Linked DNA regions of Homo sapiens: region 1 is linked to region 2. The links come from fine-mapping of genetic effects on gene expression. A gene starts in region 2. The other region holds a variant in brackets. All regions are shown on one strand. Distances are from middle to middle.

The links. PIP is the estimated chance that this variant, and not a neighbour inherited with it, causes the effect.
Region 1: its variant is the best candidate, but not a certain one, in a credible set for the expression of UPRT in prefrontal cortex (GTEx, PIP 0.59).

Annotation. Positions count from the first base shown.
Region 1 is chrX:74,777,944-74,794,806 of GRCh38, reverse strand. The region is part of intron 1 of NEXMIF (neurite extension and migration factor); the gene reads left to right. Among named protein-coding and RNA genes, the nearest start is that of NEXMIF, 140 kb to the left of the region's middle. RefSeq lists an enhancer at 15,246-15,325. The variant C/T (reference allele first, on the strand shown) is at 7,421.
Region 2 is chrX:75,266,480-75,283,342 of GRCh38, reverse strand. UPRT (uracil phosphoribosyltransferase homolog) reads right to left here and starts at 9,258. Exons shown (of 7, transcript NM_145052.4): 1 at 8,703-9,258. The coding sequence starts at 9,088. It overlaps LOC124905200 (a long non-coding RNA gene), which reads left to right and starts at 9,307. Exons shown (of 4, transcript XR_007068269.1): 1 at 9,307-9,865. RefSeq lists enhancers at 8,878-9,087, 9,248-9,297, 9,318-9,367.

The DNA.
Region 1 (16,863 bases), 490 kb after region 2:
TTGGGAAGCGCAAGGGGTCAGGGAGTTCCCTTTCCGAGTCAAAGAAAGGGGTGACGGACGGCACCTGGAAAATCGGGCCACTCCCACCCGAATATGGCGCTTTTCCGACGGGCTTAAAAAAAGGCGCACCACGAGATTATATCCCGCACCTGGCTTGGAGGGTCCTATGCCCACAGAGTCTCGCTGATTGCTAGCACAGCAGTCCGAGATCAAACTGCAAGGCAGCAGCGAGGCTGGGGGAGGGGCGCTCGCCATTGCCCAGGCTTGATAAGGTAAACAAAGCAGCCGGGAAGCTCGAACTGGGTGGAGCCCACCACAGCTCAAGGAGGCCTGCCTGCCTCTGTAGGCTCCACCTCTGGGGGCAGGGCACAGACAAACAAAAAGACAGCAGTAACCTCTGCAGACTTAAATGTCCCTGTCTGACAGCTTTGAAGAGAGCAGTGGTTCTCCCAGCACGCAGCTGGAGATCTGAGAACGGGCAGACTGCCTCCTCAAGTGGGTCCCTGACCCCTGACCCCCGAGCAGCCTAACTGGGAGGCACCCCCCAGCAGGGGCAGACTGACACCTCACACGGCAGGGTATTCCAACAGACCTGCAGCTGAGGGTACTGTCTGTTAGAAGGAAAACTAATAAACAGAAAGGACATCCAAACCAAAAACCCATCTGTACATCACCATCATCAAAGACCAAAAGTAGATAAAACCACAAAGATGGGGAAAAAACAGAACAGAAAAACTGGAAACTCTAAAATGCAGAGCGCCTCTCCTCCTCCAAAGGAACGCAGTTCCTCACCAGCAACGAAACAAAGCTGGGTGGAGAATGACTTTGACGAGCTGAGAGAAGAAGGCTTCAGACGATCAAATTACTCTGAGCTACGGGAGGACATTCAAACCAAAGGCAAAGAAGTTGAAAACTTTGAAAAAAATTTAGAAGAATGTATAACTAGAATAACCAATACAGAGAAGTGCTTAAAGGAGCTGATGGAGCTGAAAACCAAGGCTCGAGAACTACGTGAAGAATGCAGAAGCCTCAGGAGCCGATGCGATCAACTGGAAGAAAGGGTATCAGCAATGGAAGATGAAATGAATGAAATGAAGCGAGAAGGGAAGTTTAGAGAAAAAAGAATAAAAAGAAATAAGCAAAGCCTCCAAGAAATATGGGACTATGTGAAAAGACCAAATCTACGTCTGATTGGTGTACCTGAAAGTGACGGGGAGAATGGAACCAAGTTGGAAAACACTCTGCAGGATATTCTCCAGGAGAACTTCCCCAATCTAGCAAGGCAGTCCAACCTTCAGATTCAGGAAATACAGAGAACACCCCAGAGATACTCCTCGAGAAGAGCAACTCCAAGACACATAATTGTCAGATTCACCAAAGTTGAAATGAAGGAAAAAATGTTAAGGGCAGCCAGAGAGAAAGGTCGGGTTACCCTCAAAGGGAAGCCCATCAGACTAACAGCGGATCTCTCGGCAGAAACCCTACAAGCCAGAAGAGAGTGGGGGCCAATATTCAACATGCTTAAAGAAAAGAATTTTCAACCCAGAATTTCATATCCAGCCAAACTAAGCTTCATAAGTGAAGGAGAAATTAAATACTTTACAGACAAGCAAATGCTGAGAGATTTTGTCACCACCAGGCCTGCCCTAAAAGAGCTCCTGAAGGAAGCACTAAACATGGAAAGGAACAACCGGAACCAGCCGCTGCAAAATCATGCCAAAATGTAAAGACCATCAAGACTAGGAAGAAACTGCATCAACTAACGAGCAAAATAACCAGCTAACATCATAATGACAGGATCAAATTCACACATAACAATATTAACTTTAAACGTAAATGGACTAAATGCTCCAATTAAAAGACACAGACTGGCAAATTGGATAAAGAGTCAAGACCCATCAGTGTACTGTATTCAGGAAACCCATCTCACGTGCAGAGACACACATAGGCTCAAAATAAAAGGATGGAGGAAGATCTACCAAGCAAATGGAAAACAAAAAAAGGCAGGGGTTGCAATCCTAGTCTCTGATAAAACAGACTTTAAACCAACAAAGATCAAAAGAGACAAAGAAGGCCATTACATAATGGTAAAGGGATCAATTCAACAAGAAGAGCTAACTATCCTAAATATATATGCACCCAATACAGGAGCACCCAGATTCATAAAGCAAGTCCTGAGTGACCTACAAAGAGACTTAGACTCCCACACATTAATAATGGGAGACTTTAACACCCCACTGTCAACATTAGACAGATCAACGAGACAGAAAGTCAACAAGGATACCCAGGAATTGAACTCAGCTGTGCACCAAGCAGACCTAATAGACATCTACAGAACTCTCCACCCCAAATCAACAGAATATACATTTTTTTCAGCACCACGCCACACCTATTCCAAAATTGACCACATACTTGGAAGTAAAGCTCTCCTCAGCAAATGTAAAAGAACAGAAATTATAACAAACTATCTCTCAGACCACAGTGCAATCAAACTAGAACTCAGGATTAAGAATCTCACTCAAAACCGCTCAACTGCATGGAAACTGAACAACCTGCTCCTGAATGACTACTGGGTACATAACGAAATGAAGGCAGAAATAAAGATGTTCTTTGAAACCAATGAGAACAAAGACACAACATACCAGAATCTCTGGGACGCATTCAAAGCAGTGTGTAGGGGGAAATTTATAGCACTAAATGCCCACAAGAGAAAGCAGGAAAGATCCAAAATTGACACCCTAACATCACAATTAAAAGAACTAGAAAAGCAAGAGCAAACACATTCAAAAGCTAGCAGAAGGCAAGAAATAACTAAGATCAGAGCAGAACTGAAGGAAATAGAGACACAAACAACCCTTCAAAAAAATCAGTGAATCCAGGAGCTGGTTTTTTGAAAGGATCAACAAAATTGATAGACCGCTATCAAGACTAATAAAGAAAAAAAGAAGAATCTAATAGACGCAATAAAAAATGATAAAGGGGATATCACCACTGATCCCACAGAAATACAAACTACCATCAGAGAATACTAAAAACACCTCTATGCAAATAAACTAGAAAATCTAGAAGAAATGGATAAATTCCTCGTCACATACACTCTCCCAAGACTAAACCAGGAAGAAGTTGAATCTCTGAATAGACCAATAACAGGATCTGAAATTGTGGCAATAATCAATAGCTTACCAACCAAAAAGAGTCCAGGACCAGATGGATTCACAGCCGAATTCTACCAGAGGTACAAGGATTAGCTGGTACCATTCCTTCTGAAACTATTCCAATCAATAGAAAAAGAGGGAATCCTCCCTAACTCATTTTATGAGGCCAGCATCATTCTGATACCAAAGCCAGGCAGAGACACAACAAAAAAAGAGAATTTTAGACCACTATCCTTGATGAACATTGATGCAAAAATCCTCAATAAAATACTGGCAAACCGAATCCAGCAGCACATCAAAAAGCTTATCCAGCATGATCAAGTGGGCTTCATCCCTGGGATGCAAGGCTGGTTCAATATACACAAATCAATAAATGTAATCCAGCACATAAACAGAGCCAAAGACAAAAACCACATGATTATCTCAATAGATGCAGAAAAAGCCTTTGACAAAATTCAACAACCATTCACGCTAAAAACTCTCAATAAATTAGGTATTGATGGGACGTATTTCAAAATAATAAGAGCTATCTATGACAAACCCACAGCCAATATCATACTGAATGGGCAAAAACTGGAAGCATTCCCTTTGAAAACTGGCACAAGACAGGGATGCCGTCTCTCACCACTCCTATTCAACATAGTGTTGGAAGTTCTGGCCAGGGCAATTAGGCAGGAGAAGGAGATAAAGGGTATTCAATTAGGAAAAGAGGAACTCAAATTGTCCCTGTTTGCAGACGACATGATTGTATATCTAGAAAACCCCATTGTCTCAGCCCAAAATCTCCTTAAGCTGATAAGCAACTTCAGCAAAGTCTCAGGATACAAAATCAATGTACAAAAATCACAAGCATTCTTATACACCAACAACAGACAAACAGAGAGCCAAATCAGGAGTGAACTCCCATTCGCAATTGCTTCAAAGAGAATAAAATACCTAGGAATCCAACTTACAAGGGATGTGAAGGACCTCTTCAAGGAGAACTACAAACTACTGCTCAATGAAATAAAAGAGGATACAAACAAATGGAAGAACATTCCATGCTCATGGGTAGGAAGAATCAGTATTGTGAAAATGGCCATACTGCCCAAGGTAATTTACAGATTCAATGCCATCCCCATCAAGCTACCAATGACTTTCTTCACAGAATTGGAAAAAACTACTTTAAAGTTCATATGGAACCAAAAAAGAGCCCGCATCGCCAAGTCAATCCTAAGCCAAAAGAACAAAGCTGGAGGCATCACACTACCTGACTTCAAACTGTACTACAAGGCTACAGTAACCAAAACATCATGGTACTGTTACCAAAACAGAGATATAGATCAATGGAACAGAACAGAGCCCTCAGAAATAACGCCGCATATCTACAACTATCTGATCTTTGACAAACCTGAGAAAAACAAGCAATGGGGAAAGGATTCCCTATTTAATAAATGGTGCTGGGAAAACTGACTAGCCATATGTAGAAAGCTGAAACTGGATCCCTTCCTTACACCTTATACAAAAATCAATTCAAGATGGATTAAAGAGTTAAACGTTAGACCTAAAACCATAAAAACCCTAGAAGAAAACCTAGGCATTACCATTCAGGACACAGGCATGGGCAAGGACTTCATGTCTAAAACACCAAAAGCAATGGCAACAAAAGCCAAAATTGACAAATGGGATCTAATTCAACTAAAGAGCTTCTGCACAGCAAAAGAAACTACCATCAGAGTGAACAGGCAACCCACAAAATGGGAGAAAATTTTCGCAACCTACTCATCTGACAAAGGGCTAATATCCAGAATCTACAATGAACTCAAACAAATTTACAAGGAAAAAACAAACAACCCCATCAAAAAGTGGGCGAAGGACATGAACAGACACTTCTCAAAAGAAGACATTTATGCAGCCAAAAAACACATGAAAAAATGCTCATCATCACTGGCCATCAGAGAAATGTAAATCAAAACCACAATGAGATACCATCTCACACCAGTTAGAATGGCAATCATTAAAAAGTCAGGAAACAACAGGTGCTGGAGAGGATGTGGAGAAATAGGAACAGTTTTATACTGTTGGTGGGACTGTAAACTAGTTCAACCATTGTGGAAGTCAGTGTGGCAATTCCTCAGGGATCTAGAACTGGAAATACCATTTGACCCAGCCATCCCATTACTGGATATATACCCAAAGGACTATAAATCATGCTGCTATAAAGACACATGCACACATATGTTTATTGCAGCATTATTCACAATAGCAAAGACTTGGAACCAACCCAAATGTCCAACAATGATAGACTGGATTAAGAAAATGTGGCACATATACACCATGGAATACTATGCAGCCATAAAAAATGATGAGTTCATGTCCTTTGTAGGGACATGGATGAAATTGGAAAACATCATTCTCAGTAAACTATCACAAGAACAAAAAACCAAACACCGCATATTCTCACTCATAGGTGGGAATTGAACAATGAGAACACATGGACACAGGAAGGGGAATATCACACTGGGGACTGTGGTGGGGTGGGGGGAGGGGGAGGGATAGCATTGGGAGATATACCTAATGCTAGATGATGAGTTAGTGGGTGCAGTGCACCAGCATGGCATATGTATACATATGTAACTAACCTGCACAATGTGCACATGTACCCTAAAACTTAAAAGTATAATAAAAAATAAAAATAAATAAATAAATAAATAAATAAAAGAATATCAATGGGATGTCTTCTTCTCCTACCTGGAAGATGAAGTTTCTGCAAATGACCATTAGATGGCGGGGTACTTGCTGGCACTCTGAGCTGGAAGTCTGGGAGATTGTGGGAGACTGAAAATTATATCACTCTACCCCCTTCCCTTTTCTTGGCAAAGGGATATTCTAGCCACACTCAGGAAATAAAATACCTGATTTATGACTCCTGGCATGTACCTTTATACTGCTTCAGGAAGTTAGGCTTGGGTTTCATGTTGGCAAGTATCCCAACAGCTAAATTTGTGTAATGGTAAACTTTAGGTTAGATAATGAGTTTTGACCTGAAATGGGGTAAGCAACATCATGTCATGTTTGTGCCCCTTGCTGACCTCATTGCAAAGTAAAGGAAGCATAGAACCTTGATTCCTGGGTTCTAATGCCAGCCATCTATTGTCCCAACTCTCTTGGCCTCATATTCATCATCTTTAAAATAAGGATAATACCTGCCCATTCATGCTCACAGGGCTGTTGTCAGAGATCAACCTAAGATACATAATGTGAAATATATTGAAGGACTTTATAAGTTTAACATCATACAAATATGAATGATTATTAATGATCAAACCAAATAGAATATGAAATACTATTGATATTAGGTGGCATCATACATTAATAAATCTGACTTAAAAATACAATCTGTTTACCTTGATCAGGAGAGGTAGATATTTAGTCTCTGAAGTGATGCAGTATTTTCCTCAGAACTTAGTGGGTGGGTAATTTATTATTATCTACTTGTTTAATTTTTGGTGTAGCAGTTACAGAAAATACTTGATTCCAGATTGAACGATTTTATAGGGTAATTCCTCACCCTCATAAAATCCACATTATTTCAATTTACCAAGTAAATACTGGCACATTCAGTAGATGTTACTATTTTGGGTTCCAACTGGTACTCATGATTGACTCTGGTGCTCTGGATCCAGATCCTTTGGTATGTACCAGGGGACAGCAAACCTCAGTTATAGAGGTGGCTTTACCTTTACCCTAGAAATCATCTGCAGTTGCTCTGGTTCAAAGCTTAAAGGAAGGTTTGAGGAGTGTACTTTCAAGGTTTGAGGAGTGTACTCTCTCTTCCCAGCAGTGCAGAAACCAATAATCATCAAAACATTGTCACCATAACTGTTGTCAGGTTTTTTTCAACCTTGCCCTTGCATCTCAGCACAGCTCTCTCGCCCAAAGAGGTAAGCTGGGGAAAACAGAATCTACTCATTGTAATCTTTTCAGCTTATTTATCTGCATTTAGAAAGTCTCAACCCTCTGGGCTCCCCTGCCTGTCAGAGTCAAAAAGAAAGGCCCCATGTGTATGTGTGGGCCTGTATGTAAGAAGTAAGGCTTGAAGGCATCCTTGGCATCTGTCATGTGACACATGCAATGGTTTGTAATAGAGTCAGGGAATCATAGGATATGACCTGAGGTGGGAGGTCCAGTTTCTACCCTTCATTTTACAATTGGGGAAACTGAAACCCAGACCAAAAAGTAACAACTAATTAGCTATGTAGGTCTTGCTTTATTATTACTGGTCA[C/T]GGAGAGTGCATCTTAACAGTAGCCAAAGAAGGTATTGATCAAGTAGAGAAGGGACACTGTCATTCCCATAGCTTCAATCTTTTTTTTTTTTCTTTTTTCTTTTGAGATGGAATCTCGCTCTGTCGCCCAGACTGGAGTACAGTGGCGTGATCTTGGCTCACCACAACCTCCGCCTCCTGGGTTCACGCCATTCTCCTGCCTCAGCCTCCCGAGTAGCTGGGACTACAGGCACCCACCACCACGCCTGGCTAATTTTTTTTCTTTTTTTTTTTTTTTTTTTTGTATTTTTGGTAGAGACAGGGTTTCACCATGTTAGCCAGGATGGTCTCGATCTCCTGACCTCGTGATCTGCCCGCCTCAGCCTCCCAAAATGCTGGGATTACAGGCGTGAGCCACTGTGCCCGGCCCATAGCTTCAATCTTTATTTTTCTCCAGTGGAAGGGGCTTAGCCTAACTGAAAACAGTTGATGTAATTTAGGGCATGGGAGGGACTAGTGATAGGGGTGTGTGTGTGTGTGTGCACACACGCACATGCACATGTGCTCACGTGTGTGTGTGTGTGTGTGTGTACAACCTTGTTTTCAGTTATCTACTTCTCTTTGGCCTCTAAATTCTACATATTTTCCCCTTCTCCTGTCAGAATCATTTAGTCAATATGTGCCTTTTTGAGTTTGTAAGTGGAGGCTAGGTTAAAGAGTGTCCTTAGTTTAGGAATGTCATGTGCTCATTTGGCTAGGTGTGTGGTGATTGTGTGTGGGGGAATGTGCTGGATTCAGAATAGTAATAGTTGCTTAAAACTGGAACTTTTTAATGAGGGAGAATGGTCTACCTTTTTTCTTGCAGAGCTCAGTTTTATTAATGTGATATGCTGTGTGCTAGTCTGTGCCAGAAAGTATCTCTGTAGGTAATTGATCTGCCTCTTCTTCCTTTCTCTTTAGATATTCCCTTCCATGTATGATAAAAACCAATCTTGGTGTGTTTATCTCTTTTTTAAGCACTTTATCAAGGGTTTTTTCCAGCTCTTGAAAAGACAACTTGTATACCCACCCTCCACACTACACTGTACAACCAACCCAACATTCTCTGCATAGACAATCAGTCTTCTTTTCTGTGTGATATAAATCTATGAAAACTCCCACACATTATAGTACAACTGGACTTGCTGATTCCAAACCCTGAGCAGAAAAACCCTCTAGGAAGCCATTGCCAAGGATAAGATTGATTGCTACACTGGCAGGTGCCTGCCCATTTCCCTCGCTCAGTGGAAAATCTGGCCCACCATGACAAAAAATAGCTCATCCCAGGGCCTTAAAACCCACCGAATGAGATTTTAGTGTTGGGGATAAAAGCAAGGCTGTAGACTAACTCATTCATTTGCTTTAGTGTTCTCTATAAAATATAAAACATATATTTCATAAACACCAAATTTCATGAAAGCAGATTTATTTCATAAGTTTTGTCTATTACCTTATCTAAGCACAGTCTCTTCCTCCACCATTCTCAGGACATATGGCTTAGTCAGACAGACTACACAGATGAATGCAGAGTGTTGAGTGACAAAGCCAGCCCTTTAGGCGTTTGGAGCACAGCAAGGTTATGTTGGCAAGGCCAGGTCAGACAAGGCTATAAACTTTGCCTTTCATCTTTACCCTAATAATGCCACTGAACAAACCCAACCAGGATCTTTCTCAAATCCATGTGTACAGTTTTTATTTGTCAGAGACTAAGCAGAATGCCTGGGGGAAGGCATGCATAATAGAACTAATCATTCTTTAAAGTGTAATTTTCCTTGCCTATGCATTCTTGTAGAGTTTCAGTAGAGCCCTTGACACCCTAAGATAGAAGTGAACTATGCAAAGGGGGAATGAGTGGAGATAACTTGAAAAAAAATTTTTTTTTTAGTTTTACATCCTCCTTTTTTTCATATGGACTTTAGACATAAACAGTTAATGTCTGTCAGAGCTAAAAGGTACCTCTGATACCATTTTATCTACCCCTTAACCACAAAAAAAGATTATATAGGGAGCAGTTCAGTATAGTAGAAAGAACATGGGATTTGGAAAGAACTGAATTCTACTTCCAGCTCAAGCCATTTGATCTCAGTTTCTTTATATGTAAAATGGAGGTGGTAATCCTCATAATGACATTGTAAAGCAATGTACTGGTGGCCCCCAATACTATCCCCAGGTTCACTGATTTGCTAGAAGGACTCACAGGACTCATAAATTGTTACAATCAGGCTACAGTTTATTATATCAAAAGGACAGAAAGCAGAATCAATAATGGGAAAACGTACATCAGTCAGAGACCGGAGGATACCAGGTGCAAGCTTCCAAGAGTCTTCTCCCAATAGAGTCACACAGGTTGTGCTTAATCCTCCAACAATGAAGTTCAGAAACATATGCAAAGTGTTTTCTGCCGGGGAAGCGTACTTGAGCCTGAAACTCCAGGATTTTTATTGGGGTAACTAGTGACTGAAACTCCATATCCCTTGGAAAGAAAGCATGCATTCACCATAAATCATATTTTTTGCACAAGATACCTAGACAGGCTGTTACAGCATGGTTGAAAGGGCATACACAATGCCCTTACCAGTTACTAGAATAGAGAACATTCTAAGACCTCAGTTCCCAGGAGCTGGCCAAGGACCAGTCACACAAGTGGGCCCTTCTAAAAATGTATACGATTTGAGCAACTCAAGACTGCTGGGTTAACTCTTTCTTTCACAGATAGGTATTAAATTATTGTATGTGTGTATATATATATATATATAAAATATTGCATATACATACACACAGTATAAAGCAGTACATTAAATGTGAGGGATTATTATACATATGAGTAAAGAGAGCTAGAGCTATTCTGGGGTGTGATTAAGTGCAGTAAGAATGGAAGTATCTAAGACAACTCTCCAGGGCAATGAATGGGGAAGCTGTAAACAATCCCACTGAGGATTTTATTTTTCTCTATGATTAGAGATAATTTCGTCACCACTACCATTCTGTCCCTCATCAGTTTCACATTGTACTTTCTTATCATAGCTATATATTTCTTGGGATTTTTGCATAAGCCAAATTGTTTCACTACGCACTGTGGAGTTTTGGCAAGGATGTGATCCTCTTAAGGAAAGTGCAGAATTGAGCCTTTGCAGAAGGCATAGGCAGGTGCTTCCTAGAAAACCCTGAGCAAGTCCCAATGAAAGACTATGGTTAATTATACTATAATCGTGGTAACTAATACCAACAGTGAATTTTAGTCTGAATTGAATTGAAGTGAATTTATGTGAACCTAAATACTATTGAAATACGATTTTGAGCTAAATACTGCACTAGATGCCCAGCCTAGCCCAATCATTTTATAAAAATTTGCCCTCTAAGGATGACGGAAATGACTATAGAAAGGAAGCTCAGGCATTGTATGCTAGGATGTGGAGGGGAACATCCTGAGGAAGTGCACATACTCATACCTAAAACTACTGAAAGCATTTGCCAAGGGTAGCCTGTACTGCCTGAACTCAGGTGGTAATGGCACCAAGTAGACTGGAGAACAGCTTGAGAAAGTGGGCATATCTTACAGATGGACAATAAACCTCCTGATGGAACTTTGGTAATGGAGTATTTGTTAATAGCATTTTAGCTGCTGTAAGCCTCTTTGTCTGCTTTATACCCCCAGAGCTGCTGTAGCTCTCCCCAAACTCATGAATGGGGCCTAAGGCAGCTGCCTTTATTCTGCATGTAAGCTAGAGCTGGCTCATTTGTCTACCTGGTATGTTCTTTTACCCTTTACGTTGGAGCCATGTCAATGGTTCTCCTCAAATTGACCCTCTGCTGCCAGACTTTATTGAGCCCTATCTGAGACTTTTTCTGAGCCCTCTGCTCCAGGTGGCCCTAAAAACTTCATATACAATGTAATGTAGGCTCTTTAATGTGCTAGCAGAAAATGACAGAGATTAAATGGTGGCCCTGCCATCAAGGGAACTCATTGCTTCTTTTGAAATAAAGTATTTGGCAGGTTTTGCCTAGAATTGAGGGATGGAATCACTCCTTTCCCTACCTTATCTTTTCTTAAAACAGCTCCTACATTTCACCCCATTTAAAATACTAGCCCTTGCATTTGTATCACATTCTATACTTTTCTAACACTTTCTTATTTATTATTTTATTCTTACATATTTTCATTCATGCTCCGAGGCCAAGCTCAGATGCTATTTTCTACAGAGAGATTAATTTTAACTTCCTCTGACCTCTTAAGGAACTTTCCATGATGCTCTCGTGGTTTTTAACCATTTTTCCTATTTTTATTCTAATTATTTATATATATATCATTTATTAGACTCTAAGATCCTCAATGGCAAGATCTAGATAGGATTCATCAACAACTTACATATAGCAGGCAAGCAATGAATAATAAAGATGAAATAGAATAGAAAACAAACAAATGCTTGAAGCTTAGATAACTGCCTCTCATTTACTCTAATTACTGGAAGGCCTAGAACTTGAATCTTCTTCTAGTCCTGTACTGCTATCTTAAATTCTCCACCACACTGCCTCCCTTACCCAGGCCAGATAGCATTTACTCTTCAGAAGGAAGGAAATTAGCTAAGTCTCTAATAATCAGGAAAGGCTTTAAGGAGGAGGTAGACCTTGACAAATGAGTATAATGTTACTAAGTGAAATGCAGAGCGAAGGGTATTCCAGAATTAGCAGTGAAAGCACATAAAGAGGGTGGGAGGAAGAACATGGTCTGTAGAGTAATGAGGCCAAGCCTAAGAACCAGGGCAGCAAGAATTGTTTGGGGCAAGTCTTGAAAACCATACAGAAATGTTGGAATGTGTTGTAGCAGGAAGTAAGGGCCCCATACAGAAGGCCTTATATGAAGGAAGGGTCTGTAGTAGGGAGGACTTAGGGCTTTCTGGTCTACTGGCTCTTTTGGAAGTTTGAAATCATGGCAGGGACCTAAGACCCTGAACCTCCTGCCTCTTGATTTGGTCAACTCTGAATGTGAAGTATATTTTATTAAGATATTCTAACTTGCTCACTAGCATTTAATGTTAGTTGCCAAATTTCCAAACCTGAGCTCAAAGGGAACTCTCTTACAAGTTTGAAAGCATTTCAGAACTCTTTTTCATGGTAATAAGGATTTTGCCTGGCCTAGAAGAAGCTGCCAACTCCAGAGGTCTCTCTGGCACTCTAACTCAGAGAAGTTTAAAGTAAATGTAGCTCCTGAGAGAGAGTATGAGTCCTTAAACCACCAACCCCTCATCCTTTTAAATCTCTGGGTTTATCCTCTGGGAAACACTGTCATTCAGCTACTGTTTTGTTCAGGTCTCTCAAGTTCTTGCCTACCATCCAGCCCTTCAGATGTCTGTGTCATCTGGTTAGTTCCCTATATTGTGAGGACTTAACAAATTTTCAGTCAGTCATTCAGTCAGTCAGTTCCTGTCTTGTCCTCCAGAATATCAAATATTGAAAAACCACTGGCCTCAACTAAACTGAGCTACACCACACCCTGGTAAAAGGGAAAATCTTAGTATAAATTTCACATACACCTAAGGCTTTCACATACATTTCACATACACATAAACCACTGGCCTCCACTAAACTGAGCTACACCACATCCTGGTAAGAGGGAAAATCTTAGTATAAATTTCACATACACCTAAGGCTTTCACATACACATAAATCACTGGCCTCCACTAAACTGAACTACACCACACCCTGGTAAGAGGGAAAATCTTAGTATACATTTCACATACACCTAAGGCTTTCACATACATTTCACATACACATAAACCACTGGCCTCCACGAAACTGAGCTACACCACACCCTGGTAAGAGGGAAAATCTTAGTATAAATTTCACATACACCTAAGGCTTTCACATACACCTAAGGCTTCACATACACCTAAGGAAACCTAAGGCTTCCCTCTTGTTCTTTCTCCCTCTTCTCCTCCTTCACCTCTCCCTCCACTCTTCCTCTGATCTCTCTTTTTCAAACGTTATGGTTTGTTGTTCCATACCAACTGCACATTTGGCAATAGACAAAAATACAAAACTCCTGCCCTCATCGATTTATGCCACTAACCTGATTCAGTTCTCTCTAAAGGAGATCGTAGCAACCTCTCTCAATATTCATTTCCAGCTAACATTCTCTTACTATTTCTCCGGAGAGCAGTGAAACTTTATCAAAGTCTACTTTGTAACGATGCCAAAAGCTGGCCTCTGAAAGCTAAAAGGAGAAGAGCTAGAATGTGGTAAGTGGGAGCTGGGCCCTAGCAACAGAACTGTGGGAGGCAGTGTGGAATAATGGAAGGACCATAGGTCTGAAGACCTCATTTTGGACTTAACAGTTGCCCAGGCTTTCTATATTCTCACACATTTATGTACCTTTAGGGTAAGGATAATCACTCATATTTGTCTCATCTGACAGTACCTATCACACAGCTCATGTTCAGGTGAGTCCCCAGGGCCCCCACTGTGCTGTACTCTCCCTTCCCTGCCCAACTTCTCTGCACCTTGGATTCATGTCTTGTTTCTACCACTTCCTAGCCTTGAGGCTTTGGTAGGTTTCTTAACTTCTCTGACTGAGTTTGTTTCATCTTCCCTAGAAGAGATAATACATGCTTCATAGCTTTGTTGTACAGATCAAATAAAATAACAGATATGAAATATTTTATAGCCTATAAGGTGCTGTGAAAATTTTAAGATGGGGCTAGGCGCAGTGGCTCATGCCTGTAATCACAGCACTTTGGGAGGCCACAGCGGGCCGATTGCCTGAGCTCAGGAGTTAGAGACCAGTCTGGGCAACATAGCGAAACCCCATCTCTAGAGAAAATACAAAAAAAAAAAAATTAGCCAGGCATGGTGGCACACGCCTGTAGTCCCGGGAGGGACTGAGGCAGGAGGATTGCTTGAGCCCAGGAGGTAAAGCCCAGTGAGCCATATTCATGCCACTGCACTCCAGCCTGGGTGACAGAGCCAGACCCCATCTCTAAGAAAAAAAAAAAAAAACAGTAAGATGGTTTTATCAGATTAGTCAACAAATGTCAAAAGGCACACAATTTTTATTACATCCATGAACCATGCCTCCAACTAGATCATGTGGTATATAGAGTTCCAGGCCTATTTATAGACCCACATTTGCTTAGGTTCAGTTCATCTGAACACTGATTAAAGTTAACATTAGGAAAGACAAAAACCTAACCTTTATCTGTGTTTGATACAAAGACCAGTAGCAATTACATCACTTGAATGTGGTTAGATTTTATTTTCCTTTGGTATTTTGGTGAAGTTCCCAAACGAATGCCCAGGAATAATTACAGCAGACTGGCTTTGGCGGAGGAAGTATATAAAGGCAATTAGTAAAATGTAACAAACTTAAATGATAATTGAACCTACATTCCCCCAGCCATTTCCAAGTATAAACTATATAAATCTGTGTCCCAGATTCACCAAATGAAATATTTTTGAGGGAATCAAGCAGCAAGGATCTAGTGATCCCTTATTGCAGCCCAGCTATGTGTTTAGGGGCAGGGTATGGTGGTAGATGTAAAATCCTAAAAGCCTGCTTTCCAGGAGCTCATATTCTGGTTGGGTCTACAAAACAGAAAAATTAAGTCTTTTGTTAGAAGAAATGAAACAATCTAAGACAAAATAGCATCAGGTGTCAAATAGTGTGGAGCAAAAGGCATTCAGAAAAGTAGAGGTCAAGGTGGGCTGGGCCTTTCAGCTTAAGAAAGACAGAGGAAGAAGGCAGGGAGATCTTGCCTATGTTGGGAAAGTAAGGGCAGGAGCCTCTGAGTTGGAAAGAACATGTCAGGTGTTGTGCATGGTGCCACGTAAGACTGCTGAGGTATGATAGAGCCAGATTATAGATGTCCCTGAAGGCCTGGCAAAGGAGACTTGACTGTATATAGTAAGCAGTGGTGACTCATTGTGAGTTCTTGAGCCAGGAGACTGCTGAAAAAGTAGTGTGTTAAAAAGCAGCATGCAGGGTGAATTAGAACAGAGACAGACACCTACTACCAGAAACCCATTTGTTAGCTTCCATTGTAAGATGTGGTCGTAGTCATGGAAGAGGATGATTGAAAACAAGATATGGCCAAAGAAAAGAGAACAATAAGAACACTGGGGCTTAGAAGGTCAGATTACGTCTTACTCAATCAGTCAGAACTCTGGCATCATAGGTGATTTTAGTGAAAAACATATCTATTTGTTGGAAACAAATTTTTAACTTTAAATGGTTAGCTTATAGGCTTAAGATATAAGTTCCCAGAGATGAATTGGTGAATGGCGTCTGAACTTGACCTATTTGCAGCAGCAAGAATGTGCAAGAATCTTCTCCAGGCTTTCTCAGAGCTGGAGGACCCAGCATTTGTGTTAATGTGACTGGGTTAAAATGAAAGCCTTTGTTGTCTCTGAAAAGAAATTGAGGAAGTACTGTTAAAAGATGATGAGATCAGCCGGGCACAGTGGCTCATGCCTGTAATCCCAGCACTTTGGGAGGCTGAGGTGGGCGGATCATTTAAGGTCAGGGGTTCAAAACCAGCCTGGCCAACATGGTGAAACCCCAGCTGGATGTGGTGGCATGCACCTGTAATCCCAGCTACTCTGGAGGTTGAGGCAGGAGAATCACTTGAACCCGGGAGGCAGAGGTTGCAGTGAGACAAAATGTAATGTAAGGTAAAAGTGAGACAAAAATGTCTATTGTGACCTGAACATATTGGCCTATAATGATGGTAAAGCTGTGTCACTCTGAGAAAGTTACTTAAACTCTCTGAGAAGCTTTAGAGCTTCTCATTTATAATATAGTAATGCTAATTCCTACCTGCTTCACAGGGTTTTTGTAAGGGTTAAATGTATATCAACATAAAGTTTCTAGCACACAGCAGGTAATTGCACCACTGCACTCCAGCCTGGGCGAGAGAGCGAGATGAAAGAAAAAAGAAAAGAAGGAAGGAAGGGAGGAAGGGAGAAAGGGAGATGAGATCCATGGAGGAAGGAAAGGAGACTTTATTTTCAGAGGAGATACAATCTGTAGATCCGGGAGTGCAGCTTCAGTACAAGCCCCACAGAAGGGGCAAGGAGCTGGGGTCAGCCATCCATACATAATTGAGTTAGGTTGGGAAAAATCTATGAATATTTATAAGAGGAATCAGGCACCATGCACAGTGGGTAAACATGTATGTAGCATGCATTTCATGTTCACTTTGGGGTGAGGTTTTAGTATTAAAATGAGGTGGAATTTGGCTCTTTACATCTAAAGGTGAACTACAGGACACAAAGTTCATGCACAGTCTTTATAAGTTGGTTGAAACTGGCTCAAGGTCTGCAGCCATTTATCAGTAAAAAATGTTCATAAGACAGGTCCTCTGTCCAATCAGAGCTGTGGTGGGACTGCAAGGCAGGGGCTTGGGATAGAGAGTGGAGGTCAGTGGATTCAA
Region 2 (16,863 bases):
AAAAACAGTACATAGACAACAAAGAGCACAATCAATGCAACAGAACCTCACATTTCAATACTAACATTGAATGTAAATGGCCTAAATGCTCCACTTAAAAGATACAAAACCGCAGAATGGATAAGAACTCACCAACCAATTATCTGCTGCCTTCAGGAGACTCACCTAACACATGAGGACTCACACAAACGTAAGGTAAAGAAGTGGAAAGAGACACTTCATGCAAATGGACACCAAAACCGAGCTGGAGTAGCTGTTGTTATATCAGAAGAAACAAACTTGAAAGCAACAGCAGTTAACAAAGACAAAGAGGGACATTATATAATGGTGAAAAGCCTTGTCCAATGGAAAACTATCACAATCTTAAACATATATGCACCTAACATAGGACCTCCCAAATTTATAAAACAATTACTAACAGACCTAAGAAATGAGTTAGACAACAACACAATAACAGTGGGGGACTTCAGTACTCCACTGACAGCACTAGACAGGTCATCAAGACAGAAGGTCAACAAAGAAACAATGGATTTAAACTATACCTCGGAACAAATTGACTTAACAGATACATACAGAACATTTCGTCCAACAACTGCAGAATACATATTCTATTCAACAGTGCATGGAACTTTCTCCAAGACATACCATATGATAGGCCATAAAACAAGCCTGAATAAATTTAAGAAAACTGAAATTATATCAAGCACTCTCTCAGACCGCAGTGGAATAAAACTGGAAATCAACTCCAAAAGTAACCTTCAAAATCATGCAAATACATGAAATTAAATAACCTGTTCCTGAATGATCACTGGGTCAAAAACAAAATCAAGATGGAAATTTAAAAATTCTTCAAACTGAATGACACATACCTCCCAAATAATGACACAACCTCCCAAAACCTCTGGCATACAGCAAAGGCAGTGCTAAGAGGGAAGTTCACAGCCCTAAACACCTACATCAAAAAGACTGAAAGAACACAAACTGACATTCTAAGGTCACACCTCAAGGAACTAGAGAAACAAGAACAAACCAAACCCAAATCCAGCAGAAGAAAGGAAATAACCAAGATCAGAGCAGAACTAAGTGAAATTGAAGCAAAAAAAAAAATATAAGATAAATGAAACAAAAAGCTGGTTCTTTGAAAAGATAAATTAAATTAATAGACTATTAGCAAGATTAACCAAGAAGAGAGAAAATCCAAATGACCTCACTAAGAAATGAAACAGGAGATATTACAACTGACACCAGAGAAATACAAAAGATCATTCAAGGCTACTATGAACACCCTTACACACATAAACTAGAAAACCCAGAAGAGATGGATAAATTCCTGAAAAAAATACAACCCTCCTTGCTTAAATCAGGAAAAATTTGATACCCTGAACAGACCAATAACAACCAGCAAGACTGAAATGGTAATTTAAAAATTACCAACAAAAAAAAAGTCCAGGATCAGATAGATTCACAGAAGACTTCTATGAGACATTCAAAGAAGAATTGAAAACATTCCTTTTGACACTATTCCACAAGACAGAGAAAGAGGGAATGCTCCCTAATTCATTCTATGAAGCCAGCATCACCCTGATAGCAAAACCAGGGAAGGATATGACCAAAAAAGAAAACTACAGACTGATATCCTTGATGAACATAGATGCTAAAATCCTTAACAAAATACTAGCTAACCAATTCCAACAGCACATCAAAAAGATAATCCACCATGATCAAGTGGGTTTCATATCAGGGATGCAGGGATGGTTTAATGTATGCAAGTCAATAAATGTGACACACCACATAAACAGAATTAAAAACAAACATCACAGGATCATCTCAATAGATGCAGAAAAAGCATTCAACAAAATGCAGCATACCTCCATGATTAAAACTCTCAGCAAAATCAGCATAGAAAGGACACAACTTAATGTAATAAAAGCCATCTATGACAAACCCACAGACAACATAATACTAAATGGGGAAAAGTTCAAAGCATTCACTCTAAGAACTGGAACAAGACAAGGATGCCACCCTCACCATTCCTCTTCAACATAGTACTGGAGGTCCTAGCCAGAGCAATCAGACAAGAGAAAGAAATAAGGGGCATCCAAATTGATAAAGTGGAAGTCAGACTGTCACTGTTTGCTGAGGATATGATCTTTTACCTTGAAAACCCTAAAGGCTCCTCCAGAAAGCTCCTAGAACTGATAAAAGAATTCAGCAGTTTCTGGATACAAGATTAATGTACACAAATCAGTAGCTCTTCTATACACAAACAGTACCCAAGCTGAGAATCAAATCAAGAACTCAACCCTCTACAATAGCTGCCAAAAAAAATAAAATCCTTAGGAATTTACCTAAGGAGTTGAAAGACCTCTACAAGTAAAACTTCAAAACACTGCTGAAAGAAATAATAGATGACACAAATGAATGGAAACACATCCCATGCTCATGGATGGGTAGAGTCAATATTGTGAAAATGATCATACTGCCAAAAGCAATCTACAAATTCAATGCAATTCCCATCAAAATACCACCATCATTCTTCACAGAATTAGAAAAAACAATTCTAAAATTCATATGGAACCACAAAAGACCCCACACAGCCAAAGCAAGACTAAGCAGAAAGAACAAACCTGGAAGTGTCACACTACCTGATTTCAAACTATACTATAAGGCCACAGTCATCAAAACAGCATGGCACTGGTACAAAAATAGGCACAAAGACCAATGGAACAGAACAGAGAACTCAGAAATAAACCCAAATACTTATAGCCAACTGATCTTCGACAAAGCAAACAAAAATATGAAGTGGGGAAAGGACACCCTTTTCAACTAATGTTGCTGGGATAATTGGCTAACCACATGTAGGAGAATGAAACTGGATCCTCATCTCTCACCTTATACAAAAATCAACTCAAGATGGATTAAGGGCTGAAATCTAAGACCTGAAACTATAAAAATTCTAGAAGATAACTTTGGCTTACATACATTGGCTTAGCCAAAGATTTCATGACCAGGAACACAAAAGCAAATGCAATAAAAACAAAGATAAATAGCTGGGACTTAATTAAACTAAAGAGCTTTTGCACAGCAAAAGAAACAGTCAGCAGAGTAAACAGACAACCCATATAGTGGGAGAAAATCTTCACAATCTATACATCTGACAAAGGACTAATATCCAGAATCTACGAGGAACTCAAACAAATCAGCAAGAAAAAAAAAAACAAACAATCCCATCAAAAAGTGGGCTAAGGACATGAATAGACAATTCTCAAAAGAAGATATACAAATGGCCAACAAATATATATATATGATGGAATACATATCAAATATATATATATGATGGAATACTAGTCAGCCATTAAAAAAATGAATTAACAGCATTTGCAGTGACCTGGATGAGATTAGAGATTACTATTCTAAGTGATGTAACTCATGAATGGAAAACTAAACATCATATGTTCTCACTAGTATGTGGCAGCTAAGCTATGAGGATGCAAAGATATAAGAATAATATAATGGACTTTAGCAACTTGGGAGGAAAGGGTGGGAGGGGGTCAAGGGATAAAAGACTACAAATATGATGCAGTGTATACTGCTTGGGTGATGGGTGCACCAAAATCTCATAAATCACCACTAAAGAACTTACTCATGTAATCAAATACCACCTGTACCCCAATAACTTATGGAAAAAAATAAATAAGTGAAACCTGAAAGCTTTAAAAAAATAAAACAAATGTTGAAATTATTGCAAAAAAATGGGACAGAAAAACAAGGGAAACTATCATTTTATCTGATTACAATTGCTACATTAATTATCCTTTGTGTCAGGGACTGTGCCAGGTCAGACCCCCTTTCTGCCTCCTTGGAGTCCAGTCTAGTTAGGTATACCAGGATATGCCCAGTAAATGTTATAACAGAGGTCCGTATAGCTTAGTGGTGACTTCCTCCTTCCTGCTCTAAAAGTCAGAGGACTCACACGGGAAACACACAAAAACCGAAAATATGTCCATGTTTTAAACAATTTGCACGTCACAGTTTTTTTCTGCGGTGGGCATTTTGGTTTTGTGCAAGCTGGAAGGAAATGTTGGGAGATTCCTCCAGTGTTGATGTAATGCTAGGTCAGGCTCTCTAGCCTAGTTCTGTTTAGTGTGTGGAATCCCTGGATCACCATATCTATAGCCCGAATCAGCAGGCTAGCAAATCAGCACACAAGGGAGACTGGCCATTCTCCCAGGGGCAATGGCCCAGTCTAAACACAGCACAATTACCTGTGGTCAGGTTTTACTCAAGACTATACAAACAACTGCTAAGGATGGGAGTCAGGAACTTGTATTTTAAAAAAAGAGAGAGAGACTCCACAGGCAATTCTGATGCACACAGCTTTGGTTAAGGACAATACATTACTTAGTCACATAACTCAAATCACATTAGATTGCACTCACATTAGGGTTACACAGGATGTTCATTCACCCTAAGGATAATTTTCTCCCCTCCAGGTGACTAAAGAGAGTCACAAGGCTGAATGTGCTCCTTTTTTTGTCCTATGTCACATACTGACATACTCTAACATTGCTAAACTTTTAAACAAGCAGCTTGCTGAGGCCATGCCAAAGCCCCACCTAGGACAAATACACAGGAAGCATTCAACAGCTCACACAACAGCTTTAATGTTTCAGGAAACAAAAAATAAAAAACAAAAAACTGGACAGGGAGGATGATCTTTTAAATACACTGCATTGCCTTTAAATATGAGGTCATGAACTATATTCACAGGAAAAGCACATTACTCAGATTTTGCTGAGTTTAGTATATAAAGGAGGCAGAAGAGAAGGATGTGTGGTTTAATCCATTGCAACAACAACAAAACGACATAAATGAAGAAATTTTTTCTTATCCCAAGTTCACCAGCAACCCACATACGTATGGCTGAGCAAATAATCTACTCAGTGTTTACTGCACTTTCAAAGAGAGAAATTTATTTCCTTGAAATTCAATAATACAACCAACATATTATGTTTCAAATATTGCACATTTCAAAATCTAAAAAGACATTTTAAATCAATACAGACAATGTTCTCAATCTTGCCTGTTTCACATATATACAACAACATGCAGTCCTGCTGGCTCAATCCCGATTTCCCCATACCAAAGTCAATTCACAAAGCAATCCCTTCACTATATAGATGCTAAGGACCAGAAACAATAAAAGAAAAAATATGTACTCCAGTGGCTTCTATTATCGGACAGTTCCACAGTGCACATTTATGCTGTCACATCAAAATAGAGAAGAGAATAAGCCCCAAAGAGAACAGGGTATGATAACTGATGGCACCTTCCATAACTAGACCTATGTAAATATAGCTCCTCTTACCATAGGCACCTTAAACCAGCCTCCTAGAGGGGCTAAAACAGGTCTTGTGAGAGAGGATGACAATTTTTTAAAGATAAAGGGAATATAAAGCCTCTAATTTGGTTAACAAAAACAAAACTAAAAACAATGTCCCCAGCCTAAATAAGCAGCAATACATTACTAAAAATTGTGGTGGGTCTTTCCATACTATATCAAAACAAGATAAAAATTATCTACAATATCCCAGTATTCATTTTCAAGATAAAAAAGTGAATTCCACATAGAGTTAAATTCATTTTACTGTCTTCTGACAAATCAAGAAGACAGCACTTATGAATGCAATTAGAAGCATGCACAAATCCAAACATGAGGCTTGAAATTCCTTAAATGTGAACAGCTCTTCACAGTTCATAATGAATATTCATGAACAGTATCTTGTTTTAGCCTCCCAGGGGCTCCATGTGATATTTACCAACATCTTCATTTTACAAATGATAAAGGTGAAGCACAGAGATGCTAAACATATTGCCTAAATCACTTCTCTGGATCCTGCTGTCTCCTTCCAAACTTAGAGGAAAAAAAAAAAAGGATTCCACTTACACCCAGGTTTACTACATAACCCAGGTTTTTCTGACTAATGACATATAATCAGGTATTATTTTGTCATATGTGAATGCTAAATGCCATTCCCTCTCCAAGCGCTATAGCAAGGGCACTTCACCTTTACATTATCATGACACTTTGTGAAATCTAAAAAACTAAGGAATCCTCACCCTCTAAAAAAAAAGGCACATATGTGAATGTTCATAGCAGCATTATTCATAATAGCCAAAGAGTGGTAAACCACCCAAATGTTCACCAACTGATGGATAAACAAATTGTGGTATATTCATATAATGGAGTATCATTTAATCATAAAAAGGAAAGATCCCACACGGATGAACCTTGAAAACATGCTAAATGAAATGAGTCACAAAATGACCACATATTGTATGATAATGAAATGTCCAGAATAGACATTTTTTATATGTAATGTGCAGAATGGGCAAACCATTAGAAATAGAAAGTAGATTAATGATTGTCTAGGGCTTTGGGTGGGTTGGGTGAAAATGGGGAGTGACTGTTTAATGGGCATGAGGTTTCTTGCTGGGGTGATGACAAATGTTCTAAAACTGTGGTGATGAATGCACAGCTGTGAACATACTTAAAACCACTGAATTATACACTTTAAATTCTTGAACTGTATGGTCTGTGAATTATATCTCAATAAAGATGTTATTTAAAAACAACTATTAAAAATCTTCATATGAGTAAAATTTCCCAGTTAATTTATGAGGGTTTGTTAAAGCCCTGAACCCATCTACTGGTACGAGGGAGTCGAAGACCCAAGCGTAGTAACTTCTGCTCTATAGAAACAAGAATCATCATCTATTTTTCTTTGTTGTATATGTAAGATTTATTTTGGCTGCCCCTACCCTACCACAACTACAGCAAACCTATGCCTCCTATTTTTTAGGATCACTATTTTGTCTATTAGATAACATAACCACAGTAGTTTTCAATATTGATTCATTAAAAAGAGTAAAATAGTATAGTTTCATAAATATAATTTTAAGAGCTACAAAAAAACTCTAGTAATTGAGCATCTATTATTTGCAAGGCATGGCCGGCATTCAAAAATGTAAAAGATTTCTGCCTTCAAGATGTCATAGGCAGGATAAGATCTATACAAAAATAACAATATACGAAAAAGAAGGTGAATCTTGCATTAAAAAGACCAGGGAAGATAAGCCAGGAATAATGATTAAAGGGAAGCTTCTTGGCAGAGGTGGACAATTATTTAATGCTGTGTTTCACCCTGAAGAATAAGTATCCTGAACGTACATAAAGGAGACACAGGGAATTCCAGATGAGAGCAGAAACAGATATGTTTCAGAATTGTTCCTAGGAACTATGAAGAAGGGCCTTCATCCCAAGCTAAGGGGGCCAGGCATGGTGGCTCACACCTGTAATCCCAACATTTTAGGAGGCCGAGGCACGAGGATTGCTTGAGGCCAGGAGTTCAAGACCATCGTGGACAATATAGCAAGACCTCCATCTCTACAAAAAAATAAAAAATTAGCCGGGGGGCAGTGCCATGTCCCTGTAGTCCCAGCTACTCAGGAGGCTAAGGCAGGAGGATTACTTGAGCCCAGAAGTATGAGGGTACAGTAAGCTGTGATCTCACCACTGCACTCCAGCCTGGGTGACAGAGAAAGATCCTGTCTCAAAAATATCAATCAAGCTAAGGATCCTGGACTTTATTTGGTAGGCTCTGAGAAGCCAAAGAAGGTTGCTGAGTAGGGCAATTACTGAATCAAAGATGTATGTTATGAAGATTGATTGTACAGTAATGTATGGGTGCATGTGGAAGAGAGGAAAAACTGCAAGCAGAGAAACAGTATTATTACAATAGTGTAAGACAAGGTTTCTAGAGTCTGGTTTAGGGAGTGGCATCTGTCATTCAGTAGCCATTTTTAAAAGATCAAGGCATGTCCCCCCAACCCCTGCCACTAAAAAAGGGGTGTTTTGATATGCTGCTCATTTAAAGTGCTGCCAATAAAGAAAATAGCTGTAGTTCATCATGGTACATATTTCCCTGGAGAAAACCCATTTACAACGTAGGTTTAGAAATTTCAAAATTACATTTTAACATGAAGTTCTGGCTACATTGGTTTGTGGGATTAGGAAGGGCCAAAGGCTCCTTTAGGCTCCCTTTGATCCATTAACTATGTTCTGTGAGTTTACAGTGAAAAATGATAAGAGTTGGACGATAAGCTTTCATGTGATCAAGTAAACCTGAACTCCAAGACTAAAAGACCTTGTTTGCAGTAGCAAATACTAAAGGGTCAGGGCCTGAATAGAATTTCCTTGAAATTGCTTTATTTCTATTTATGAACCTGAGGTGATTGGTGGTAGTGCATAACCTTGGATAGTAACCATTTCTGGGTTATAGGTTTACCATGTGGACAAGCACTGCCCACATAGTATAGGGGAGTTTACCTGCCTGGAATGGCCAAGGAGTTGTCTTTCCTGGGAGAGACAAAGAGCCCAGAGGCTACCTAAAGTCTTCCTCCCCACCCAAAGTGATGTTAGACACCGGAACTTGGAAAGAGAAGGTTGGCGTTCGAGTTACACGACACACACACACACACACACACACACACACACACACACACACCAAATAAAAGGTCTTACCCCAATCTCCAAAGTTTGCCAAGGCCAAGAACACTGTCTCTTAGCCCTTTTACTTCCAATCCCCGCCCACAGCCTGCAAGACCCTCCACTTCCCTTTCCCCTTCCGCTCTTGGCTTACTTGTCACGGATGATGGTCTGTAGCTCCCGTATCTGATCATTCATAGGCAGCAGCTTAAGCTGCGCCCCGATCTGCCGGGAGAGTTCGCAGTCCTCTAGGAAGGAGTTGCCAGCTGGTGCGTCATAGCTGCTACTGTCACCACTACCACTGTTGCCCTCTGAGTTGAGGCTGGAGCCGCCGCAGGCCCCAGAGTCCAGCTCGGCCGGCAGGCTAGAATGGGCGTACCCCGTGAGGAGAATCACCTTGGCCCTGGAGGCTCTGTTTCCCCCTGCGTGGTCCAGGATCAGATCGCCAGGTCGCAGCTGCTCGGGACTTGGGGTTGAGGCAGAGTTTACTTGCTGGTTGTGACAGGGCATGGAGTCCGGACACTGTAACTCCGTGGCCATACACCGGGCCCCGGGCTATCCCCGCTGCTACTGAACACTAAAGATAAAGAGGAACGGGTAGAAAGGACAGATGCTCACGTGCTCTCTCGGTTGCTCCCGCCTCCTCAGAACATCTAACCCTGGCTGTCCTTTCACCCCTAGGCCGCTGTTGGTTTCCTTTAGCACACTTTGGCTCACTCCCGCCCACACCAGACGTACTGCCTGCCTAGACACCCTATTGGCTGCACTCCCCGCCACTCTGCGGCGCCACTGCTTGTTAACCCTTTGAGTCACCCTTGCTACGTGGGTTCCCACAGGTAGCTAAGCCCCCGCAGCGAGGCCAAGGATGCCAGCTTGAAGGATCTTCCGGGGGCCCCTGGGGCTTCTGCATTCAGAACTTTGGGTGATTAGTAGAGCCAGGAAAAACTGGGGGTGGCAGGTGATGATACACAGTTACACACGTAAGGCCCATGTTTTCAGACTTTGTGACCTAGCAGAGAAATTATATCTCAGTAACCGCATCTTCAGTTAGCTTGTCTGCATAACAGAAGGAAGAAGTAAAAAAATGCCTAGCAGGCTGCTGAAGAGGCTGTCCTCTACTAGACTGTTCTAGAAACTGCAGCTTCCCAAGTATGCTTGACCGCCAAAGCTTTTCTTATCTTTATTGGTTGGGCCCCACAGTGTACACGTTGTCATGGGGACTCAGGCGGCATTTCAGATCCACTATCATTTTGAATCTTTAAAGTACTTGGAAAGACGCTTATTTTTAAGTGTATGGACTCACTATAACGGCCTGAGGTAAGAGTGTCTAGGGCAGTACTTTTCAAACATCAGTATGTACCACAATAATTGTAGAGCTTGTTAAAATGCAGGTTCTTACGGCTCATTTTTGAGATTGTGATTCTGTAGATCCGAGATGGGATACAAGAATCTTTTTTTTTTTTTAACTTTTAAGTTCAGGGATATATGTGCAGGTTTGTTACATAGGTTAACTTCTGTCATGGGGGCTTGTTGTAAAGATTATTTCATCGCCCAGGTATTAAGCCTAGTACCCACTAGTTGTCTTTCCTGATCCTCTCCCTTCTCACACCATGCACTCTGCAGTAGGCTCCAGTGTGTGTTGTTCCCCACTATGTGTCCATGTGTTCTCATCATTTAGCTCCCACTTATAAGTGAGAACATGCAGCATTTGGTTTTCTGTTCTTGTGTTAGTTTGCTAAGGATAATAGGCTCCAGCTCCATCCATGTCCCTGCAAAGGACATGATCTCATTATTTTTTATGGTTGCATAGTATTCCATGGTGTATATGTACCACATTTTCTTTATCCATTCTATCATTAATGGGTAGTTAGGTTGATTCCATGTCTTTGTTATTGTAAATAGTGCTGGAGTTAACATATGTGTGCATGTGTCTTTAATAAAACAATAATTTATGTTCCTTTGGGTATATACCCAGTAATGGGATTGCTGAGTTGAATGGTATTTCTGTCCTTCCTTTTTTTAACATGCCTATACAGATTTTTTTATAATTTTTTTTTTATTTCCATAGGTTATTGGGGAACAGGTGCTGTTTGGTTAGATGAGTAAGTTCTTTAGTGGTGATTTGAGAGATTTTGGTGCATCCATCACTCGAGCAGTATACACTGTACCCTATTTGTAGTCTTTTATCTCTCAAGCCCTTCCCACCCTTTTCCTCCAAGACCCCAAAGTTCATTGTATCATTCATATGCCTTTGTATCCATCATAGCTAAGCTCCCACTTATGAGTGAGAACATACAATGTTTGGTTTTCCATTCCTGAGTTACTTCACTTAGAATATTAGTCTCCAATCTCATCCAGGTCGCTGCAAAAGCCATTAATTCATTCCTTTTTATGGCTGAGTAGTATTCCATATATATATACATATATATATATACACATATATATATGTGTATATATATATATACATATATATGTATATATACACATATATATACACATATATATGTGTATATATATATATATCTCACAGCTTCTTTATCCACTCATTGATTGATGGACATTTGGGTTGGTTCCACGTTTTTGCAATTGCGAATTATGCTGCTATAAACATGCGTGTGCAACTATCTTTTCTGTATAATGACTTCTTTTCCTCTGGGTAGATACCCAGTAATGGGATTGCTGGATGAAATGGTAGTTCTACTTTTAGTTCTTTAAGGAATCTCCACACTGTTTCCATTAGTTGACATTCCTACCAGCAGTGTAGCAGTGTTCCCTGTTTGCCACATCCATGCCAACATCTACTATTTTTTAATTTCTTTGATTATGGCCATTCTTGCAAGAGTAAGGTGGTATTAAATTGTGGTTTTAATTTGCATCTCTCTGATAATTAGTGATGTTGAGCATTTTTTAATACATTTCTTGGCCATTTGTATATCTTCTTTTGAGAATTGTCTATTCATGTCCTTAGCCCACTTTTTGATGGGATTGTTTGTTTTTGTCTTTCTGATTTGAGTTCCTCGTACATCCTGGATATTAGTCCTTTGTCAGATGTATAGATTGTGAAGATTTTCTCCCACTGTATGGGTTGTCTGTTTACTCTGCTGACTGTTCCTTTTGCTGTGCAAAAGCTCTTTAGTTTAATTAAGTCCCAGCTATTTATCTTTGTTTTTATTGCATTTGCTTTTGTGTTCCTGGTCATGAAATCTTTGGCTAAGCCAATGTCTATAAGGGTTTTTCCAAAGTTATCTTCTAGAATTTTTATAGTTTCAGGTCTTAGATTTCAGTCCTTAATCCATCTTGAGTTGATTTTTGTATGAGGTGAGAGATGAGGATCCAGTTTCATTCTCCTACATGTGGTTAGCCAATTATTCCAGCACCATTAGTTGAAAAGGGTGTCCTCTCCCCACTTTATATTTTTGTTTGCTTTGTCGAAGATCAGTTGGCTGTATTTGGATTTATTTCTGATTTTGTGTTTTGTTCCATTGGTCTGTGGGTATATTTTAATACCAGTACCATGCTGTATTCGTAACTATTGCCTTATAGCATAGTTTGAAACCAGGTAATATGATGCCTCCAGATTTATTCTTTTTGGCTATATGGGCTATTTTGCTTCAATATGAATTTTAGAATTGTTTTTTCTAATTCTGTGAAGAATGATATTAGTATTTTGATGAGAATTGCATTGAATGTGTAGATTGCTTTTGGCATTATGATCCTGTTCACAATATTGATTCTACTCGTCCATGACATGGGTTATGTTTCCATTTGTTTGTGTCGTCTATGATTACTTTCAGAAGTGTTTTGAATTTTCCTTGTAGAGGTCTTTCACCTTCTTGTTTAGATATATTCCTAAGGATTTTTTTTTCACATAAAGTGTTTATTTTTTCCTTATTATACTTTAAGTTCTGGGGTATTTGTGCAAAACGTCCAGATTTGTTACATAGGTATACATGTGCCATGGAGGTTTTCTGCACCCATCAACCCATCGCCTACATTACGTAGTTTTCCTAATGCTATCCCTCCCCTAGCATCCCAACCCTGAAAGACCACAGCATGTGATGTTCCCCTCCGTGTATCTATGTGTTCTCATTGTTCAACTCACACTTATGAGTGAGAATATGAGGTGTTTGGTTTTCTGTTCTTGTGTTAGTTTGCTGAGAATGATGGTTCCCAGCTTCATCCATGTCCCTGCAAAAGACATGAACTCATCCTGTTTTTATAGCTGCATGGTAATCCATGGTATCTATGTGCCACATTTTCTTTATCCAGTCTAAAATTGATGGGCACTTGGGTTGGTTCCAAGTCTTTGCTATTGTGAATAGTGATACAATAAACACATGTGTGCCTGTGTCTTTATAGTAGAATGATTTATAATCCTTTGGGTATATACCCAGTAATGGAATTGCTGGGTCAAATGGTATTTCTGGTTCTAGATCCTTAAGGAATCCCCACACTATCTTCCACAATGGTTGAACTAATTTACACTCCGACCAACAGTGTAAAAGCGTTGCTATTTCTCCACATCCTCTCCAGCATCCGTTGTTTCCTGACTTTTTAATGATCACCATTCTAATTGGCGTGCGATGGTATGTTATTGTGGTTTCAATTTGAATTTCTCTAATGACCAGTGATGATGAGCTTTTTTTCATATGTTCGTTGGCTGCATAAATGTTTTCTTTGGAGAAGTGTCTGTTCATATCCTTCACCCACTTTTTGATGGGGCTGTTTGTTTTTTTCTTGTAAATTTATTTACGTTTTTATAGATTCTGGATATTAGCCCTTTGTCAGATGGGTAGATTGCAAAAATTTTCTCCCATTCTGTAGGTTGCCTTTTCACCCTTATGATAGTTTCTTTTGCTGTGCAGAAGCTCTGTTGTATAATTAGATCTCATTTGTCCATTTTGGCTTTTGCTGCCATTGCTTTTGCTGTTTTAGTCATGAAGTCTTTGACCATGCCTATGTCCTGAATGGTATTGCCTAGGTTTTCTTTTAGGGTTTTTATGATTTTAGGTCTTGTGTTTAAGTCTTTAATCCATCTTGAGTTACTTTTTGTATAAAGTGTTAGAAAGGGGTCCAGTTTCAGTTTTCTGCATATGGCTAGCCTGTTTTCCCAACACCATTTATTAAATAGGAAATCATTTTCCCATTGCTTGTTTTTGTCAGATTTGTCAAAAATCAGATGGTTGTAGATGTATGGTGTTATTTCTGAGGCCTCTGTTCTGTTCCATTGGACTGTATATCTGTTTTGGTACCAGTACCATGCTGTTTTGGCTACTGTAGCCTGGTAGTAGAGTTTGAAGTCAGGTAGCATGATGTCTCCAGTATTGTTCTTTTTGCTTAGGATTTTCTTGGCAATGTGGGCTCTTTTTTGGTTCCATATGAAATGTAAAGTAGATTTTCCAGTTCTGTGAAGAAAGTCAGTGGTAGCTTGATGGGAATAGCATTGAATCTATAAATTCATTTGGGCAGTATGGCCATTTTCACGATATTGGTTCTTCCTATCCATAAGCATGGAATGTTTTTCCATTTGTTCGTGTTCTCTCTTATTTCCTTGAGCAGTGGTTTCTAGTTCGCCTTGAAGAGGTCCTTCACACCCCTTGTAAGTTTTATTCCTAGGTATTTTATTCTCTTTGTAGCAATTGTGAATAGGAGTTCACTCATTATTTGGTTCTCTGTCTGTTATTGGTGTATAGGAATGCTAGTGATTGTTGCACAGTGATTTTGTATCCTGAGACTTTGCTGAAGTTGCTTATCAGCTTAAGGAGATTTTGGGCTGAGATAATGGGGTTTTCTAAATGTACAAACATGTCATCTGCAGACGGAGACAATTTGACTTCCTCTGTTCCTATTTGAATACCCTTTATTTCTTTCTCTTGCCTGATTGCCCTGGCCAGAACTTCCAATACTATGTTGAATAGGAGTGGTGAGAGAGGCCATCCTTGTCTTGTGCTGGTTTTCAAAGGGAATGCTTCCAGCATTTGCCCATTCAGTATGATATTGGTTGTGGGTTTGTCATAAATAGCTCTTATTATATTGACATACATTCCATCAATACCTAGTTTATTGAGAGTTTTTAGCATGAAGGGCTGTTGAATTTTATCAAAGGCCTTCCCTGCATCTGTTGAGATAATCATGTGGTTTTTGTCATTGGTTCTGTTTATCTGATGAGTTACATTTATTGATTTGCATATGTTGAACCAGCCTTGCATCCCAGGGATGAAGCCAACTTGATCGTGACAGACAAGCTTTTTGATGTGCTGCTGGATTTGGTTTGCTAGTATTTTATTGAGGATTTTCACCTTGATGTTCATCAGGGGTATTGGCCTGAAATTTTCTGTTTTTGTTGTGTCTCTGCCAGGTTGTGGTACCAGGATGATGCTGGCATCATATAATGAATTAGGGAGGAATTCCTCTTTTTCTATTGTTTGGAATAGTTTCAAACGGAATGGTACAAGCTCCTCCTTGTACCTCTGGTAGATTTTGGCTGTGAATCTGTCTGGTCCTGGACTTTTTTTTGTTGGTAGGCTATTAATTACTGCCTCAATTTCATAATTTGCTATTGCTATATTCAGGGATTAGACTTCTTCCTGGGTTAGACTTGGGAAGGTGTATCTGTCCAGGAATTTATTCATTTCTTCTAGATTTTCTAGATTATTTAGGTAGAGGTGTTTATAGTTTTCACTGATGGTCATTTGTATTTCTGTGGGACCAGTTGTGATATACCCTTTATCATTTTTTATTGTGTCTATTTTATTCTTCTCTCTTTTCTTCTTTATTAGTCTGGCTAGCGGTCTAATTTGTTGATCTTTTCGAAAAACCAGCTCCTGGATTCATTGATTTTTTTTGAGGGTTTTTTGTGTCTCTATCTCCTTCAGTATTGCTCTGATCTTAGTTATTTCTTGTCTTCTGCTAGCATTTAAATTTGTTTGCACTTTCTTCTCCAGTTCTTTTAATTGTGATGTTAGCATGTTGATTTTGGATCTTTCCTGCTTTCTCTTGTGGGCATTTAGTGCTATAAATTTCCCTCTAAACAATGCTCTAAATGTGTCCCAAAGATTCTGCTATGTTGTGTCTTTGTTCTCATTGGTTTCAAAGAAAATCTTTATTCCTACCTTAATTTCGTTATTTACCCAGTAGTCATTCAGGAGGAGGTTGTTCAGTTTCCATGTAGTTGTGCAGTTTTGAGTGAGCTTCTAAGTCTGGAGTTATTTTTCTTTTTTTTATACTTTAAGTTCTAGGGTACATGTGCACAACGTGCAGGTTTGTTACGTATGTATACATGTACCATATTGGTGTGCTGCACCCATTAACTCGTCATTTACATTAGGTATATCTCCTAATGCTATCCCTCCCACCTTCACACACCCCACGACAGGCCTTGAACTGTGATATTCCCCTTCCCATGTCCAAGTGTTCTCATTGTTCAATTCCCACCTATGAGTGACAACATATGATGTTTGGTTTTGTGTCCTTGTGATAGTTTGCTGAGAATGATGGTTTCCAGCTTCATCCGTGTCCCTACAAAGGTCATGAGCTCATCCTTTTTTATGGCTGCATAGAATATGTGCAACATTTTCTTAATCCAATCTATCACTGATGGACATTTCGGTTGGTTCCAAGGCTTTGTTATTGTGAATAGTGCCTCAATAAACATACATGCGCATGTGTCTTTATAGCAGCATGATTTATAATCCTTTGGGTATATACCCAGTAATTGGATGGCTGGGTCAAATGGTATATCTAGTTCTAGATCCTTGACGAATCGCCATACTGTCTTCCACAATGATTGAACCAGTTTACAGTCCCACCAACAGTGTAAAAGTGTTCCTATTTCTCCACATCCTCTCCAGAACCTGTTATTTCCTGACTTTTTAATGATCGCCATTCTAACTGGTGTGAGATGGTATCTCACTGTGGCTTTGATTTGCATTTCTCTGATGGCTAGGGATGATGAGCATTTTTTCATGTGTCTGTTGGCTGCATAAATGTCTTCTTTTGAGAAGTGTCTGTTCATATTCTTCACCCACTTTTTGATGGGGTTGTTTTTTTAATTCTAAATGTGTTTCGGTTATTTGTAGATTCTGGATATTAGCCCTTTGTCAGATGAGTAGATTGCAAACATTTTCTCTCATTCTGTAGGTTGCCTGTTCACTCTGATGGTAGTTTCTTTTGCTGTGCAGAAGCTCTTTAGTTTAATTAGATCCCAACTGTCAATTTTGTCTTTTATTATCATTGCTTTTGGTGTTTTAGACATGAAGTACTTGCCAATGCCTATGTCCTGAATGGTATTGCCTAGGTTTTCTTCCAGGGTTTTT